Linked DNA regions of Homo sapiens. The protein of the gene in region 2 purifies or fractionates together with the protein of the main gene of each other region. This does not show direct contact. Each region holds a gene or a part of one and is shown on either strand. Other genes may lie near its edges. The genes, in order: PKLR and CYP4B1.

Region 1 (4,281 bases), about 110 Mb from region 2:
GCCCGCCTCGGCCTCCCAAAGTGCTGGGATTACAGGCGTGAGCCACCGCGCCCAGCTTTTTTTTCTTTTTTTAAAAACAAACAAACAAACAAACAGAGTTTCGCTCTTGTTGCCCAAACTGGAGTGCAATGGCGTGATCTTGGCTCACTGCAATCTCTGTCTCCCGGGTTCAAGCGATTCCCCTGCCTCAGCCTCCCGAGTAGCTGGGATTATAGGCACATGCCACCATGCCTGGCTAATTTTTTGTATTTTTAGTAGAAACAGAGTTTCACCACATTAGCCAGGCTGGTCTCGGACCCCTGACCTCAGGTGATCCACCTGCCTCAGCCTCCCAAAGTGCTGGGATTATAGGCAAGAGCCACCATGCCCGGCCAACTTTCACTCCTTTCTTTCTTTCTTTCTTTCTTTCTTTCTTTCTTTCTTTCTTTCTTTCTTTCTTTCTTTCTTTCTTTCTTTCTTTCTTTCTCTTTCTTTCTTTCTTTCCTTCCTTCCTTCCTTCCTTCTTTCTTTTCTTTCTTTCTTTCTTGCCTGCTTGCTTTCTTTCCTTCCTTCCTTCCCTCCCTCCCTCCCTCCTTCCTTCCTTCCTTCTTTCTCTCTCTCTTTCTTTCTTTCTTTCCTTCTTTCTTTCTTTCTCTCTTTCTCTCTAGGGTCTCGTCTGTCACCTAGGCTGGAGTACAGTGGCTCGATCATGACTCACTGCAGCCGTGACCTCCTGGGCTTAAGTGATCCTCCCACCTCAGCCTCCTGAGTAGCTGGGACTACAGGCATGCACCACCACACTCAACTAAGTTTTGTATTTTTTGTAGAGATGGGTTTTGCCATTTACCCAGACTGGTCTCAAACTCCTGGGCTCAAGCGATCTGCCAACCTTGGCCTCCTAAAGTGCTGGGATTACAGGCATGAGCCACTGAGCCCAGCCCACTTTTTTTTTTTTTTTTTTTTTTTTTTTTTTGTGAGATGGAGTTTTTCTCCTGTTGCCCAGGCTGGAATGCAATGGTGTGATCTCGGCTCACCACAGTCTCCGCCTCCTGGGTTCAAGCGATTCTCCTGCCTCAGCCTCCTGAGTAGCTGGGATTGCAGGCACGCACCACCATGCCCGGCTAATTTTGTATTTTTAGTAGAGACGGGGTTTCTCCATGTTGGTCAGGCTAGTCTCGAACTCCTGACCTCAAGTGATCTGCCCACCTGGGCCTCCCAACATGCTGCGATTACAGGCATGAGCCACCATGCCCGGCCTCACTTTCTAACGGAATAAATAATTTACTTATTTTAAATAATTTATTGTGCTTACTATTTATTGTCATACTCAGCTAGACTGTCAGCTCCCCAAGGGTAGGGATTTTTGTCTGTTTTTTTCACTGATCTACTCCCAGGGCCCAAAATCTTGTCTACTATATGCTCAACAAATTTTTGTTAAATGAATGACTGTGTCAAACATGGAGAAGTCTCAAAGGAGACAAAAGATGAAGAAGCACCTCAAGAAATACCAATAGGCCCTGTGTGGCTGCAGGGGGATGGGAGTGCTTACCGATGGTGGCAATGATGCTGGTACTGCGAGCAGCCACGGGCTCGGAGTCAATGTCCAGTAGGCAGAGGTGTTCCAGGAAGGTGTCTGCCATAGCAGCTGGCAGCTGCTGCTGCTGGAAGAAGGCAGTGCCCAGCTCCTGGGTCAGTTGGGCCACACTGGCCCGCCGCAGATACCCCGCTGGCCCTGTGGTAGAAGGGGGCTCAGGGACTGCATGTCACCTGCCCTTCCTCCCCATGCCTTCGTCTCTCAGCATACCCTCTGTTCCTTCCCTTCTTATGAGCTGGGCATCATGCATATATTATTTTATTATGTCACAAGGATCCTATAAAGCAGGTACTGTTAAATGTTCTATAATTATCCAATTTTATGGATAAAGAAACAGAGGCTGAGAAACAGGAAATAAATGGTCCAATATTATACAGCTTCTAAGTATGGATCAGCTAGGATTCAAATCTAGGTCTGACTAACTCTAGCCCAAGTTCTTGACCACTCAGTTATACTGACCCCGCACAACCCAGGACCCCCCGACCTGCAGCTACTGATGACCCTCAACCCCACCACCCCTTGATGTCTAGTCCCCAGCAGCCTCACCCTATGCAGACCCAGAATCACCCAGTTCCTGCTCCAAAGGTCTCTGTTTTCTCCCTTCCAACCCCTGGCTACTGGCTGGCTTCCCCACCCCATCCTCTGAGTCTCCCCAGGCTTCTCAAAGCTGCTACAGACACAGAGGTCCCTGTAGCTTGACCCATCCCAGTTCAGAGGAGCCCCCGATTCCAGCCGCACCTTCCATGCCACTGCACACCTCTCTGGGTCTCCCTCTCTGTGGGTCTGCTCCACACTGTTGGGTTGTCAGAGGCATGAGGCCCAGCTGGGCTGGGGATCAGTTCTGCAGACTGGTTAAAGTGTCACCACTGTCTCCTGTTCCATTGGAAGCCCTGTATGCCAGGGGCCAGAGTCCAGGAACCACGGGAGTGCCCCGTGGCTTACATGCTGTGGCTCTGGCCTGCCTATAGGGCCTGGAAAAGACCCAGGCCAGGGTCCATAATTTAACACACGGGAGGCTCTGAAGAACGTACGTTCCTCTCCAAAACCCACCTAGCCAGTGGCTGATGTGGATCATTTATGCCCTCCACCCTGGCTCCTAGTTTTCACCCTCATTTTCCTCCTATGTTCCATGGCTTCTGTCTCCCCTTCTTACCTCCTGGAGCCCCAATCAGGATGGACTTTGCTAAGTCTCTTTGGGACTTAGAGACCCATGACCGAAGCTGCAGGGATGATATGTTCTCCTGGATCGACATGCTTTCAGTGTGGGCCTGGGGCTGCGGGACCATGGAATGAGAGGGAGAGGATGACAAAACTGCTGGTCTTATCTAAGGGAGACAGAGAAGAGAAAAGGGGCACACCCAGTAGGCCACCCTGTCCCCACAGAATCCCTCCCCCAGAACGGCCTGCTCTCTGCCCTCATCTCCTGGCATTTCCTCTCATCCTTTTTTCCTGATAAATTTTCAATCCATTCATACTATCTGGTCATCCACGTGAATAGATATTTTTTTTTTGGCCAGTCATATGGCCCCATTTTCTTTGTACTTTACTGAAGTTAGCTCTAGTGAATCCAGGGAGCAGGGGCTGTAGGGTGGGGCTGGAGCCTGAAGAAAGACAAAAGGGATCACTGTGATAATATGGTGGGGGGAGGGTTACCCAGTTCTGACCACTTTTTTTCTCTGTCTCAACCAAGAAATGCAGAGTGCCTTCACCACTCTGTAACCTGGCCAGCTGCATGTTTTCGCCTACATGTTTGAACCCAAGATGGTACCTTGAACATTCTCAGACACTGATAAACTTGATTAGGTTGTTGCTGGAAACACTGAAAGATCGACTATTTTGCTAAACTTATAGACTCCTACCCCCAGGGAAATTTTCTTTCCTCCCTCCCTTCCTTCCTTTTTTCTTTTTCTTTTTTCTTTTTTTTCTTTTTTTTTTCACAGAGTCTCACTCTGTCGCCCAGGCTGGAGTGCAGTGGCGCAATCTCAGTTCATTGCAACCTCTGCGATCCTCCTGCCTCAGCCTACCGAGTAGCTGGGATTACAGACGTGCACCACCACACCCAGCTAATTTTGTTTTTCTTTTTTCTTTTCTTTTCTTTTTTTTTTTTTTTTTGAGACTGAGTCTGACTCTGTTGCCCAGGTTGGAGTGCAGTGGCGTGATCTTGGCTCACTGCAACTTCTGCCTCCTGGGTTCAAGCGATTATCCTGTCTCAGCCTCCTGAGTAGCTGGGATTACAGGCATGCACCACCACGCCTGGCTAATTTTTGTATTTTTAGTAGAGACGGGGTTTCACCATGTTGGTCAGGCTGGTCTCGAACTCCTGACCTCAGGTGATCTGCCCGCCACAGCTTCCCAAAGTGCTGGGATTACAGGTGTGAGCCACTGTGCCTGGCCTAATTTTTGTATTTTTAGTAAAGATGGGGTTTCACCATGTTGTCCAGGCTGGTCTCCAACTCCTGGCCTCAAGTATCCACCAGCCTCGGCCTCTCAAACTGGTGGGATTACAGGTGTGAGCCATCATGCCCAGCCTTGTTTTCTTTCTTTTTTTTTTAAAGGGTCTCACTCTGTCACCCTGGCTGGAGTGCACTCGTGTGATCATGGCTCACTGTAGCCTTGACTTCCTGGGCTCCAACGATCCTCCCACCTCAGCCTCCCAAGTAGCCAGTACTACAGGTGTGCACCACCATGCCTGGCTACTTTTTAAATTT
Region 2 (3,807 bases):
AAACTGAGTTATCCTGTCCTAAGGAAGGAGCTCACTCAGCCAAGAACTGCTGCCACCTGTCTCCTGAGGTCCTGGTAGCCTAGGGTGAGGGCATGGAGGGCAATACTGGGTCGCTTAGTGGCCCACCCTTGGAGGGTTCCAGGCTCAGGGATGGAGTCGTGTAGGATGTGCTTAGCCCCAGGCTGCCAGGGCCTGGACTGACCAGCCCTCTCTCTCCCATCCCTTCCCCAGGGAGAGGCCTGCTGGTTCTTGAGGGGCCCAAGTGGTTGCAGCACCGCAAGCTGCTCACACCTGGCTTTCATTATGATGTGCTGAAGCCCTATGTGGCCGTGTTCACTGAGTCTACACGTATCATGCTGGTGAGCTCCCTGTGCCAGAGTACTGGAGGCTGTTGCCTGCTGGGCTAGCCCCTCTCCACCCTGATTTTGTCCTGGGGAGAGTAGGTGGTGCTCTGCAGTAAGGAGAATAGCTGAGCCCCAAGGCCTGTTCTGCCTGCAACAGCAGTGCCAAAGCCCTGCTCTACTGACATGTGCCGCAGGCTGCCACTGAGTCGGTGCTGAATCTCTAAGTGTCCTGGCAGCCCGATCCTTGTCTCCACCAGGAGACCCAGCCCTCTTTCCTCCCAGGCCAAAGGGTCTCTGTGAGAACTTAATAAGGCTCCTAGCATAGCAGGTTTGAGGACTGCCTATATTTGAGAGTATGGGGAAAGGCTTTCACATCTAAAACGTGTCTCCTCATTTTCTGTCTACCACAGCTGCCCAGAATTATGTCAATACAACTCATCTCTAAGAGGGATGTCAGAGGTCAGGGTTAGAGTCTTAGGGCTGGGTAATCCCTAAGTTATCCAGGCTAGTCTTTCCCCTTGTAGGAAACTCCCCTCCAGGATTACTTACATATACACCATGCGGGGGAGCTCACCACCTCTCAGCCATCCTACTCCCTTATAGGCTGCCCTGACTGGGAGAAAACGTCTGTGTGCTGTGCAAGATCTGCCTCCTGGTCCTGCCCTCTGAGCCTGAAGCCCAGAGGCTTCCAAACTTCTACCCACCCTATCCTGATATTCCAGCAGGATGGAGGGCAGGACAGGGACTGGGAGTGTGTGAAGGGGGCTTGGTGGTGGAGGATAGGCTACGGGTCCTGGAGGGCAGCTTGGGGCATCCAGCCCAACTAACCCCTGCATCGCCTCCTACACATTGCCTCCTATCCCTGGACTCCAGGACAAGTGGGAAGAGAAAGCTCGGGAGGGTAAGTCCTTTGACATCTTCTGCGATGTGGGTCACATGGCGCTGAACACACTCATGAAGTGCACCTTTGGAAGAGGAGACACCGGCCTGGGCCACAGGTCAGGAGCCACCTCGGGGCTGACCGCACTGTCTCCAAAGCCATCTTAGAGGGGAGAGTTGGCAGGGGTCCTGGGCTCTGATCTGAGAAGAGATAGGGTCCTGCCCCAGGGAGCCTTAGCTTGCGGGGAGACAGGACCTGCTCATGGTGGGGTAAACACCTGGCTTTAGCAAGGAGGCTTAAGGGCAGGGAGAAGAAGAGCAGGATGCTCTGTGGTTGGGGCTAGATTCCTGGAATGGAGTTTCTCTGGCTCTGCTCCTGGGCCAGTGTCTAAGCCAATCCCTCCTCCTACCCTCTGCTTAGCAGGGACAGCAGCTACTACCTTGCAGTCAGCGATCTCACTCTGTTGATGCAGCAGCGCCTTGTGTCCTTCCAGTACCATAATGACTTCATCTACTGGCTCACCCCACATGGCCGCCGCTTCCTGCGGGCCTGCCAGGTGGCCCATGACCATACAGGTGGGCCTTTCCCACAAGGCTCACCTCTAGGAAGCCTGGGTTCCTCCTCCTGGCCCCTCTATGCCCCCTCCCATTATAGGACCCCAGTTCCCCTTTGGACAAAAGATGGCTTCCCAGGCAGTGACACTCTGTGCTTTTGGTTCAGACCAGGTCATCAGGGAGCGGAAGGCAGCCCTGCAGGATGAGAAGGTGCGGAAGAAGATCCAGAACCGGAGGCACCTGGACTTCCTGGACATTCTCCTGGGTGCCCGGGTGAGTACATTGTTGCCCACCCCTACCTGAGGACTGGTCCCAGAGAGGTCTTCAACCATCCTCCCAGGACAGCAGAAGGAGCTCTTAAGCATTTCCCCCTTTCCTCAGCAAATATAACCTGTTCCTCGTCCCATGAAACATATTAGCAGGGGTTCAGAGGTGGGCAGGTGTAGGGTGTGTGTGCCTGAGCTGTGGAGTTGGGAGCCTAGGTCACGTGGTAGTGGCTGGACGACATTTCTAGACTTCTAAGATCCCCCAAAATGTTGGCCTTGTAGAATCCTAGAATCTTAGACTTCATTCATTCATTCATTCATTCAGTAAGTTCTTTATTCATCAATTCTAGAAACTCACTGAGTTCTGACTCTGGGTCATTTCCGTGCTAGGATGCAGAGATGGGAAAGACCTGGCCCTTCCTTCCAGATGCTTACAGTCCAGCAGGGGAGACAGTAGGTAGATGTTGACCAAAATGTCTTCCTCTGGCAGGTGGTATTCTATGTGCCCAGTGAGCAGAACAGTCAGGGCTGGACAAGGTCACAAGTCATTTGGCCAGAGCATTTAGGGAGGGCTTTGTGGAGGAGGAGGCATCCAGGCTGAGCTTTGAAGGAATATAGGAATCTGGGGGAAGGTCCTAATCCACCCTCTGAAAAGGAGCTTTCACTCCCTCCCAGAGACCTTCATTTGACAACCACCATTATGAGTTCTTCTTGTTACCCACCTCCAATACCTCAAGCTGTCCTATTATGCCTTCCCTAACCCAGGATGAAGATGACATCAAACTGTCAGATGCAGACCTCCGGGCTGAAGTGGACACATTCATGTTTGAAGGCCATGACACCACCACCAGTGGTATCTCCTGGTTTCTCTACTGCATGGCCCTGTACCCTGAGCACCAGCATCGTTGTAGAGAGGAGGTCCGCGAGATCCTAGGGGACCAGGACTTCTTCCAGTGGTGAGTCTGAGGGTGGGCCCGGTTTATCCTGCTCAGCCCTTGGGAAGGGCGATGCCCATCCTGTCCTGAACCATCCTGGAAATCAGGTGAGGTGGCGGCTGCTATCCTGTTACCCCCAGTGTCATACCTTTTGTGGTGGTGGGGGGTGGGGAGAGTGGTTGGCTGGGCACAGATGCACCCCTGAGCCCATTCTCCCAAAATGGAGCCTTTCAGAAGTGTTATGTAGAGAAAGTTGTCAACAAGAGGCTGATATTTTGTGTGCTAACTTCTTCTGACGGTAGAACCTGATTACCCTTCTGGGTCCCTGGATAGAGTAGGGAGAGCTGGGAGAGAAAGAGGTGGAAATGTGGGGGTGAACAGAGCTGAGACAGCTGGGAGAGCCAGTTCCTTGCTACTTGCCTTTGGATGGCAATACTCAGCTTCCAGATGCCATATCTCTCCTGCTGGTGAAGGAGAAAAGACTTCCCCAAACTTCATCACTTAAAAACTTTCCATTGTTTTCCCCTGTTTCTTGGCTCAAGACTGAACTCCTAAACACTTAAGGATTGACCCTGACCTCTCTGCAGTGTGATCTCTGGGAGTCTCTCAAGAGGCTCCTTCACCCTTGCTGGCTGCCTGTTCCCCTCAGGCCTTTGCTTGTGGTCAGACAACCTGCCTTTCTCTCTGGGCTCCTGAGCAGCCTCCAAGAGGGGGCTAGGCACACAGCAGGGGTACAGAAAATGCTGAGCCAGAGGGGGAACTTTAGATCCACTTGAAAGGGACTGACCTATAACTCCAGGGTCTAGGACCTGGAGTATGAAGCCTCCA

What was found.
Region 1: the proteins of CYP4B1 (region 2) and PKLR purify together in Homo sapiens (affinity purification with mass spectrometry; one large-scale study listed by BioGRID and IntAct). This does not show direct contact.

Annotation. Positions count from the first base shown.
Region 1 is NC_000001.11:155,298,570-155,302,850, forward strand, and holds the start of PKLR (pyruvate kinase PKLR), read right to left. Parts: upstream 2,870-4,281; 5' UTR 2,827-2,869; coding exon 2,727-2,826; intron 2,384-2,726; exon of another isoform or gene 2,319-2,383; coding exon of another isoform or gene 2,312-2,318; intron 1,712-2,311; coding exon 1,529-1,711; intron 1-1,528. UniProt on the Homo sapiens protein: Pyruvate kinase that catalyzes the conversion of phosphoenolpyruvate to pyruvate with the synthesis of ATP, and which plays a key role in glycolysis.
Region 2 is NC_000001.11:46,812,265-46,816,071, forward strand, and holds part of CYP4B1 (cytochrome P450 4B1), read left to right. Parts: intron 1-231; coding exon 232-359; intron 360-1,217; coding exon 1,218-1,342; intron 1,343-1,644; coding exon 1,645-1,799; intron 1,800-1,944; coding exon 1,945-2,051; intron 2,052-2,809; coding exon 2,810-3,000; intron 3,001-3,807. UniProt on the Homo sapiens protein: Cytochromes P450 are a group of heme-thiolate monooxygenases. In liver microsomes, this enzyme is involved in an NADPH-dependent electron transport pathway.